Linked DNA regions of Homo sapiens: region 1 is linked to region 2. The links come from fine-mapping of genetic effects on gene expression. A gene starts in region 2. The other region holds a variant in brackets. All regions are shown on one strand. Distances are from middle to middle.

The links. PIP is the estimated chance that this variant, and not a neighbour inherited with it, causes the effect.
Region 1: its variant is fine-mapped to the expression of ZAP70 in unexposed skin (GTEx, PIP above 0.99).

Annotation. Positions count from the first base shown.
Region 1 is chr2:97,737,571-97,742,893 of GRCh38, reverse strand. It overlaps ZAP70 (zeta chain of T cell receptor associated protein kinase 70), which reads right to left. Exons shown (of 14, transcript NM_001079.4): 11 at 5,229-5,323; 12 at 4,997-5,137; 13 at 4,787-4,899; 14 at 3,034-3,519. The coding sequence ends at 3,396. Among named protein-coding and RNA genes, the nearest start is that of ZAP70, 27 kb to the right of the region's middle. RefSeq lists an enhancer at 2,835-3,334. The variant G/A (reference allele first, on the strand shown) is at 2,645.
Region 2 is chr2:97,710,641-97,716,007 of GRCh38, reverse strand. It overlaps ZAP70 (zeta chain of T cell receptor associated protein kinase 70), which reads right to left and starts at 2,432. Exons shown (of 14, transcript NM_001079.4): 1 at 2,334-2,432; 2 at 2,014-2,092. RefSeq lists enhancers at 1-419, 1,651-2,624 and a silencer at 4,598-4,787.

The DNA of each region.
Region 1 (5,323 bases), 27 kb before region 2:
CCAGAAAAGCTGCCAATAGAGTTGCCTCTTACATATTGGCCTTGGGATAGTGGGCATGTTGGGTCTGTAAACCAAGTCCTCAGAGCCTTGGTTTCCTCAACTGTAAAATGGGTTCAAGAGTCCCCACCCCAGGCAGATGTTTTGAGAATTAAACAGGAAGTTGTGTGTTCGAGGCACCCAGCACATCAGAATTGCCTCCCACAAATACCTTCCTGGGGCTTCACAGCCCTCTAATTTGAGCTCAGAGATACCTCAGACAAGGACAAAGCTACAGGCACATGGGACCCCAGCCTCCAACAGAGAAGAGAGAAATTTGAAACCCTGAAGGGACAAAAGGTGAATGGAAGCAGAACAGGAAACTGATTCACCATATCCTCACCCATGTGGCCACAGGGCAGCCTACGCCCTTGGCCTTTTGCTCAGAGCAGAGGATGGGGCCTGAGAAGGTGCGAGCTCTGTGCTGGGCATGAGGCCATGAGACGTTCACAGCAAGAGGTGGCATCTGTCAAGCTGGCGCACATCTGAAAACACTGCTCAACTTCGCCACTTACAAGAGAAATGCTAATTTGTCTTAATTTACACAATAAGATATTTTTCCCATCTAAAATTAAAAAATGTTTTTAAAATGGTAAAACCCAATGCTAGGAAGCCGTGGACCTGGTAGATGGAGATGTTAGTTGCTTCCTGGCCAAGGAGTCAGGAAATATGAAACAAAGAGGATGTTACTGACCTCCCATCTTGATCACCGCACCAGGCCTTGCGTTTTCTTCCCATTTCCAAACTCAGCCTTCCAGCCCCGCCAAAACCTCTCTTTGTTTCCAGAAGGACATTCTCTCCCACTACACACTATTCCTGCTCCCTGGGATACTTTCTTTACGGTCCCCAACCAAATGTCACTCACCCTTCAGAACTCAGCTAAGGCGTTCCCTCCTACAGGAAGCCCACCAGATTGGCCCCTCTCAGCTGGCTCAGGAGCTTCTCTGGACCTCCAGGGCCCAGTGGGCTGCCACCATGCCAGTGGTTATCACCCTGAGCCTGTGTGCCTCATGACACACGTCTGGAATAGGCACATGATCAATAGAGGAGGAGTGAGATATTTGGAGAAGAGGTGTGCTCTGTATGGTCTTGGAACGGTAAAGGGAATGGGGGTCAAGGTTGGTGTCAGCAGCTGGAAAACCTTTCTAAGAATTGTAACTCACTTACCAGCCCAGGCTGCGTTGAGAGGTAATGGATGAGCTGCCCATCACAGGAGGTGTGCAAGCAGTGATCAGAAACTGCGTCCCTCAGCCCCTCTCCTCCATACCCAGGGAGCCTGGGCGGGGAGCTTTCCTAGCGGACATCACCCGGGAGGGAACGGGGAGCTTTCCTCGGGGACATCACCTGGGGGGGACGGGGAGCTTTCCTAGCGGACATCACCCGGGAGGGGACGGGGAGCTTTCCTAGGGGACATCACCCCGGGGGACGGGGAGCTTTCCTAGGGGACATCACCGGTGGGGACGGGGAGAGCTTTCCAGGCAGCGGCAGCGGTGAATGCAGAGGCCCAGAGGGGAGTCCGCGTGGGCGCTGGAAACCCTGGAGGAGGGTGAAGGGGCTTGGTCAGAGCCGCCAAGAGAAAAGATCCTGCAAGCACCTTCCAGGGGACTGTTGGGAAAAAGCTGAGTGTTGGGAGGGAAACTGAGATGGGGCTTGCATGACTGAAATAATGGCCTCTGGAACGTGTCTAGACTTGCTGGCTCCTTGCTTCTAGCCTTCCTAGGCTCCTAGATCGATTGTATTCCCATTATCTCAAGTAGCAGAACATGTTCCGTAGAAAAGCTAAACCATCACAGCTGTAAATCATGTGCTTAATGCAACGTGTCCTTTTGACAGCCACATTCTCACCACCTGTTTCTTTGTTGGATTACAAATAAATACCGTGGGCTCCCAGAGCTCAGGGTCTTCGCAGCCTCCATGATGGCGATGACCCCCTGGTGTCCCACTTTTATCTCTCAAACTGTCTTTTTCTCAATCCTTTGACTCTGCCGGACTTTGTCACCCCCACGACCTGGTGTTGGGTCTGATCACCCCAACAGGGGACAGGAATGGGGACCTGGAGGTGAGGGCCTGAGGTCGTGCTGCTAGCGGAAAAGGAGACGTGCAGAGGTGAAGCAGGCAGTGAGGGCGGGATTGACCCCAGCTGGCCTCGGCCTCTGGAAACATCGCCACCTGGAGAGTGCTCTGCGGAACTGCACCCTCTTTCGTTGGTTCCTCAGCGGACATCTCTGGTGGGTCTGTTAGCGTTCCCAATGTACTTGACACCCATTTTTTAATGCCTCCTTCTTATAAAATAAGATTACTTTCATCAATAATGATGACATGAAACATAATGATGACCAAAAGGCAATGAAAGCCACAATTCATTTACTGTCTGATATATTTTACATAATGTAAGTCGTTCAGCGACTCACAAATGAATTTTAATAAAACTGAACTACCTGCAAACCACGATTTAAGAAACCACTAAATTGATGCAATTTGTCTTAATTCGTTCATTAGCTTTTAAAACAATTAATTTAAAAACAATGTTTGCATTTTGGTATTTTTCAGATTCAAATTCAGTAATACGGTTCATACGGGAGCTAATACGTGCATCTACCAATGAAAA[G/A]CATTGTATCTCATGATTTGCAAGGCACCCCTGGGGGGGTGAAGACCCCAGCTGGATGGGGGAGGGGGGGTTAGCGTTTGTTAAAATAGCTCCAGGTGATCCTAACGTGCACCTGGCATGGGGCACACTCATCTCCACACAGGGGAGCTGGGCTCAGCCAGGCACGCAGCCCTTGGGCCCACACCCGCCTGGCCTCAGGTTCCCCACTCCACCCCAGCCGCTCACTCACATGAAGGTGTCCCTAGGGTGGAGAGTGGGACCCAGCCCCATCTTCCCAGGGGTCACTTCCAGGCTCAGTCCACACAAGAACAGTCACCTCCATGCACTTTTCATAACCCACCCCTCCCCTGACACCTACCCTCACCCCGGAAAAGATGAGGGCGCTCAGACAAGAGGGAAGCTGGGTTTATTCTGGTGATCTACGCCTGACCACCTGAGGATGCCCAGGCTCCAATGTCAGGGCCCAGGGGAAGGCATCCGTGTAAGCAATGCCCTCAGCTCAGGGCCCTCCGGGAGCCACCAGCCCAGGACAGGCTGCACAGCCGCACCCTCCCGGACCTCCCTGCTCCCCAGCCAGAGAGGACAGGGGGCCAGGCAGGCAATGCAAGGCCGGTGTGGCCTGAGACACCCCCTACCACAGCCCAGCTGTGTGTGGAGACAACCAAGCAGGGCTCAGCCAGACTGCAGGACCTGGGGTGGGGCTGAGGGTGGGGAAGAGCCGGCGTGGAGGGCTCCCCTGGGCAGCGGGAGCTCAGGCACAGGCAGCCTCAGCCTTCTGTGTGCTGCCTGGGGGCCCTTCCACCTTGCTGGCCAGGCTGTAGTAACAGGCTCGCATGCGCTGCTCCACGGTCAGGAAGTCGGGGCGATCCTCCCACCTGTGGGGCGTGGGGTACATCCAGGCTGCTGACCACGCCCCCAGGACCCAGCTTCACCAGTGGGTGGGCATGCACTGTGCTTGGCTGAGGTAGACTTTTGGGGCTCAGAAAGTCAGCAGGGCTGTTGGGGTGGCGGGACATTGGGTGGTGGAGAGGACTCTGGGGTGTGAGAGCGTTGGGCAATGCCACACAGCCTAAGGAGGCAGAGCTGCCCACACACAGGGTGCTGGGATGACCCCTCTACCGAGCGTTGACCAGTGAGGACTCAGGGGACTGAGTGGACTTGGTGTCAGAGTGGCAACTATTGACCACGGGGACCTGGGATATAGAAAGCTGATGCTCTGTGCATGCACCTGGGGCCAGGGTATCAGTGTGCTGGGGCTTAGATGAGAGGGAGTGCAAGGCTGGTGATCAGCAGAAGCCTGGAGCATGGCAGTGGGTCTGGCCAGCGGGGAGCGGCAGTATTAACGGTACTGTGCATGGGGTATCCATGGACTGTGTTGGGGTGCTAGGTGCTAGCCTCTTTGGGTACTGGGGTGTGGTGCCCTGGGTGTTTCCTGATGGAGGTGGAATTAACACATGTCGCAGGAGGGTGGGCCAGCCAGAGAGGGTGTCTATCTGTTGGGCTGCTTGGGTGTTGGGGTGTCAGCATGCTAAGTGCTGGCCGGTGGGGGGTCATGCGTTACAGTGTCCACACATTGCATGGGCAGTCTAGGGCGTCCGCTTGTCTGGGGGTGTGTTGCCTGTTGTCTGATGGGAAGTTGGGATACTGATGGTGTTAGGAGTTGAGATGTCTGAAGGTTGGGCTTCAACCAGGCAGAGGTGGGGGCTGGAATAGATGAGTATTTGGTACCTCAGTGCTCACCTGTCTGGTAGTTGGGTGCTGTGTGCTGGCTGGTGGGGACTGGAGTGTTGGGTACTGGAGAATCATCTCATGCCCTGAGTGTCAGTGTCATAGGTTGAGTAGCAGAGTATGGACCTGTTTGCGTGTTGCAGGGTCCATGTGTTGAGTGATGGCTGAGGTTTTAGATGCTGAGGCACAGGCCCACAGGTGGGATGGCAGGGTGTGGCACACTGGAGCAGGACAGCAAACCCTGGTGTGTTGGAGAGCTGGGTGTGGGGGTAGGGGGCAGCTGCAAAGGCTATGAACTGGGTGAAGGGCTTTGGGTGAGATGACATTGGGTAGAGTTATATTGACATCAACTCATCGGGCACCAGGACTTTCCAGGGGTCAGCCCAGCCGGGTCCCCTCCCCACTGGCACTCACTTGTAGATCCAGCAGTCACTCATGAGTGCGTACAGTTCGGGTGGACACTCTGGTGGGCACTCCATCCGCTTGCCCTGCTCGATGAAGGCCATGACCTCCGGCCCTTTCATCTTCTGCTCAAGCCGGGGCAGAGACACCTGTGAGTGACCAGTGTCCTCCTCCTCATCCCCCTCCCCACCACACCGCCCACCTGCCTCTGCCCGCGCCTGCCTTGTAGGGCTTCTGGCCGTAGGACAAGGCCTCCCACATGGTGACCCCATAGCTCCAGACATCGCTGCGGCTGGAGAACTTGCGGAAGTTGATGCATTCGGGTGCGTACCACTTGAGCGGCCACTTCCCTGCTGAGCGGGCCTGGGGAGGGGGAGATGCTGCTGGATCAGGGGTCAGGGACCCTCTACCCACCCAGCCCATCCAGTCGGGCATCACAGGGGCAGAGGCTTACAGTGTAGTAGCTGTCGTCGGCACCCAGTGCTTTGGAGAGGCCAAAGTCGCTGATCTTGGCGTAGTGCCGGTTAACCAGCAGGACGTTGCGGGCCG
Region 2 (5,367 bases):
ATCACAGCCCTGATGGCCTCTGTCTCTGCTCCTCAGTCCCTCACCAGGCTGAGCTCCCCGAGGCAGGGCCCACGGCTCTGTCTTGTTTTCTATGGAAGCTCCTGCTTCCTCCCCACAAATATTTGTCAAGTGTGTAAGGACAATCACAACAGCCTCTGTGCTGGGGACTGCACTACCCTTTGCGAGCATTAGCCATTTATTCTAATTCTCACCACAACTACATTTGGTGGGAACTGTTATCCCACTCCTCAGCTAAAGAAACTGAGGCTCGGAGAGGTCAATGTCACTCTCAGAACATGCAGCCTGCAAGGGGCCACCAGGATTTGAACTCAGGTCTGTCCAATGCAGCAGCCAGCACTAACCACTCCAGCAAATGTCTATTAGGAGACCCTGGAGAGCTGGGCTGGTGCGGGGTCAGGGTCAGATTCCCCAACCCAGCACACTCTCCAAGTGTCTGTTGATTGAACAATGCCCTTCCACCGCCCCTCCAGTGAGGCCCCCAACTCCGGCCTCCACTGCCTGTGTGACCTCAGCAAGCAGCGGTCCCTCTCTGGGCCTCAGGCTCTGTGACTGTAAAAGGGAGATGGGAAAAGGCGGTGTGAGTCAGGAGGATAGGGGCTGATAGAGACAATGGAACAGGGTGGGACTGTCCTGGGCCTTGTAGGCTGTTCACAGGATTCCTGTCCTGGACATGCTGGATGCCAGTAACACCCGCTGGGTCACAACCCAAACTGTCTCCAGGCACTATCAACTGTCCCAGGGAGACGGGAGGAGGTAAAATTGGCTCTGATGAGAATGGCTGCCTTAACCCTGTACCTTGGGGTGGGGCAGGGAGTGGTCAGCACGGGGTGGTCTGGGTGCTGCAGCCCCGGAGAGCATACAGGAACTGTGGAGTCCAGAGCCCGAGGCCACCCAGAGCTAGTGAGGATAATGAGGGTTTTAGTGAGACCTTTCTGCAGCACCTGTATGTGCCGGGCAGTGTGGATACAGTCACTCTCTTTATCCTCCCGAGAGCCCTGGGAGGGAAGCACAGAGAGATGCGGTGACTGGTCCAGTCACACAGCTGGTGAGTGGCAGAGCCAGAATGTGAAGCCAGGCCCCCAGGCTCCAGAGTGTGCACATCAACACCACCCCCGCAACACTGCCAGGGCAGTGGGGCTGAGGATGGAGGGCAGGTGTGAAGAGGAAAAGGAAGCTCTGGATTCAGCAGGAGGCAGCTTCACAGGTGGCACCTTAGGAGTCCCTGACCCTGATCTCTCAGCAAGGCATTATTAAACACCTCCTGTCTGCCTACTGTTCCAACCAAGACGAGAGTAATGAATCATCTCGAGCTGCTCACCTCATGAACTCCTGTTCCTTCCTGTCGGGGATGCTTCCTACCTGGGACACATTTCCCAGCCTCTCGCCAACAGTCAGGAACCAGGCGCCTGCCAGGTGCCCATATCTGCATGTGCATTTAACAGATGCACAAACTGAGGTCAGAGAGGCCAAGCAACTTGCCGAGAACACACAGCAGTTGAGGAGAACTCGGTGTTTTGCTCTTTCTCTCTCCAGGTCTTCCTCTAACCTGAGCTCGCCTACAAGTGGCTCAAGCCTGCCCTGGACTCCTCACAGGAATCACAGCATTCTGCTGATGGAGCTCACGGCCCTGGTGAGCAGCCCCCTCATCTTCACAGAGTGCACATGCGCTTTCTCTGGAGGTTTCTCTGCCTCCGAGAGCCAAGGATGCAGCCAAACAGGGCCCAGCAGGAGCCCAGGGACTGAGCAGGCCTCACCGTGTCCCCTGAACAGCCCCGCTCGGCCAAGCCTCTGGAGGGGGAGCTGCTTCCCTCAGCGTGGCCACAAGCCCCGTCTGCCTCCATCTCCAGCCAGTCACCACCCAGCCCAGTCCTCCAGCTCTCCTGGTCCTCCCAGCAACCTCCTGACTCCCAGTTAATATTCTGTCTTCCTCCTCCAGACACAGCCCACCATGGAGACGGTGGCCAGGTGCCACTCCACCCAGGCACCACTTACCTGGGGACGTACAGGTGGATGTCCAGGCAAACAGGCCACTTGCGGGGTCTCTGGTCCCAATGCCAATGGAGAGCCGGTTCTGGGTGAGGAATCGGGGCTTACAAAGCCGGTTTGGATTTCCCTGCAGCCCAAGCCCCCAGCCTGAGAGGGAGGCCCTGCCGCTCACACTCTCCGCACACACCCCGGGGGAGGATGTCACACCCCGCCAGGGTTTCTCACTCATGGATGGGGGGGGTTCATCCTCTGCCAGGTCTCCCAGAGCCCCCTGGGGTGGCCCTGGTGGCAGGACACAGGCAGAAGGCCCGAGGACAGCCGCTTACCTGAATGCCCCAGCAGCAGCTCTGAGGCCCACGGTGGGCCAGGCCTGCCCGGAAGGCCTGGTGTCTGCTGAGCTCCGGCAAGCAGGCTTGTCTGAAACTAACCTATTTCCTGGATGCGAAGACAGGAAAGGGGGCTGTGTTTGATGTTTACATCAAAGTCACAAAGTGCTGTGCTCAAGGAAAATCACAGGCCACGTGCTCCAGGGAGGCAGAGGGCATTTCCGGGGCCCAGCACTGCCTGCCCAGCTGCAGGATGGGACTGAGAGATGGGAATGAGGCTAAGCAAAGGCAGGGTTTCAGGAAGGACGACTCCAGCAGCAGGAACCGTCAGAAGGGAGGAAGCCTGCATACCTGGAACCGGAGGGTAGGCAGCAGTGGTGGGAAGGAGGGGAGTCCCAGGGCTCATGGAAACTGGAATGCCCCCATTTTCCCCTCAAAGGGGCGTCGCCCTGGGGCCTGCACCAGCTAGACAACCCAGAGGAGTGATTTGTTTATTCCACAGGCAGGTTAGAGCTGGAGGGAGGAGAAACCCACTGAGTCAGCCCATACCCCGAAGGTGAGAACCCCTTCTGTGCCAGGCATCTGGATGGCAAGGACAGCCTGCCCTTGCTCTCCAGTGGCTCGCAGGCTTGTTGGGGGCAGCTGAGTCCACAGGGAGCCAGGGCTGGGAGGCCGGAAGCCTGGGCACTGTGTGTCCCCAGAGTATCCCCAAGCCAGCCTGGAGGATGTCAGGGATGCGTTCCAGGAGGAGTCAGCCACCCAACCGAGACACAGAGCCAGGGCATCCCCAGTGCTAGCCCGGCCCACCTGGGACCTTTCCCACGAAGCTGAACCTGGCTGAGTGCCATCCCGCTGTGGCCACCACCTCCTCCTCCTCTTCCTCTCCTCCCTTCCCTCACCCTGTGCACCCCCTACCCTTGGGCCTGGGGCCACACCTCATGCACTCTCTCAGAGAGGGGCCTGCAGAGCCACTCCCTCGGCTCCATCTCCCCTCTAGTGCCCCAAGGCCTCTGGGAGCCCCTTGCCCACCACCTCCTTGCTTTCTTGGGCACTAAGGGAGTCGTCACAGCTCTCCTGTCTGTGGGGCCTCAGAGACCTGTGTGGAACTGCCCTGGGCCCACTGTGGAGACTCCTAAAGCTTTTCTTCTTGGGGTCCTGCTGCCCTTGTTAAGTGGGCTTGTGATACCCTACCTTGTTTTAACCTGAATTGACTCTCCCTTAGCTAAGAGAGCCAGACAGACTCCATCTTGGCTCTTTCATTTGCAGCCCCTTACCCACCCCGCTTCCTCAAGGACTTAATTTGTGCAAGCTGACTCCCAGCACATCCAAGAATGCAATTAACTGATAAGATACTGTGGCAAGCTATATCCGCAGTTCCCAGGAATTCGCCCGGTTAATAGCACCCAGAGCCCCGGCGTTTGTGTCCGGTTGATAACGCCCAAAGCCCCGTGTCTATCACCTTGTGATAGATTTTAAGCCCCTGCACCTGGAACTGTTTGCTTTCCCGTAACCATTTATCCTTTTAACTTTTTGCCTGCTTTACTTCTGTAAGATTGTTTTAGACCCCCACCTGTCCTTTCTAAACCAAAGTATAAAAGAAAATCAAGCCCCTTCTTTGGGGCTGAGAGAATTTTGAGCACTAGCTGTCTCTCAGTCGCCAGCTAATAAAGGACCCCTGAATTCGTCTCAAAGTGCGGCGTTTCTCTGTAACTCGCTCGGTTACAACAGGCTCAGCTCCCCAGTCTGCCTGAGGATCCCCTCACACCCTACCCCGAAGCCTCCTTGGGGACCTCCTTTCTGGCCCTCTACTATCCTCTGGCCGCCTGAATCCCCTTTAGAAAATCTGAGTTCCGGCTCTAGGCTACTTTTCTCCTTCATACAGCCCCCTCCAAAATGGTGTTTGCTAGCAGCCTCCCTTTTCCCCAGCGGCATCTTGAAACTCCAGGTGCAGCAAGCATCCCTTCACATCCATGCTGGACGCTCATTTCTTGGAGTATTGAGAGAAAAAGACACCGGCACCCTGAAGAGAGGAGAAATTACAGCATCAAATCACATTCATACTACAATAATGAGAGTCGCACTGATTATGTGCCAGACATTGCTGTACGCACATCACAATTAATAAGCCATTCAACCTATTTTCCAGATAAGGTAAGTAAAGCCCAGAGAGGTTAAGAGATGCCAAGTGGCCAGGTGGGATTGCAGCCCAGGCAGCCTGACCCCACCCACGTGCTGCTGGACATAAAAGAAGAAAACTTTGGTTGTAAAATATCTCCCCGAAGGAGGCCAGCGCCCCAGGGAGCTGGAAGCTGAGCCAGCTATGGGACAGGGTGCCTCTGTGTGGGTGGGGGGCTTCCAGTTTCCAGGGTCTTCAGGTCCTGAGAAGGGGATTCCCAGCCTCTGCAAGGCACTGGCCCTACAACCCTTGAGCCCCCCACTTCCTGTCCCAGAGGCTGGTCTGGAAACTACAAAGCCCAGTGCTCAGACAGCTCTGAGATTGGGCTACAGATAATCCGAGATTGGCATGCAGATAAGGTCCTCTGTTCTGCCAGAGTGGAAGGAGGTGGATGCATCTTTTGAATGTTTACAGTAAAGGGCAAACGGATGGAAATGTGGGCTAGGAAAGTTGCGGTGCCTTTGCCTCATCGGGTTGGGGTAAACATTCACTCTACTCATGCCAAGAGCCTCGAAGAAATTCATCAGTCACCCCCATATCCTCAGGTCTTTGCCCACACCTCTTCACCTGCCTATTTCCTAGTCCTCTTTCAGGTCTCCAATTAAGCGTGTTTTCCTCCAGGAAGGCTTCCCAATCCTCAGACCGGGCAGGGATGGGCTTTCTGTCCATTTCACCTGGAGCTGAGCAGGTCCAATCTGGCTGCACAGTTAAGAGAACACAAGCCACTGCTGGGAGACGTGCAGCAGGGAGATAGGGTGGAGGCTCCAGCAGGCCCGAGAGGAGATACACCCCAGTGCAATGAGCCCCAAAGGAAACAGGTCCATCCAGGGCCCCTCCTGGATTCCCTCTGGGTGTACA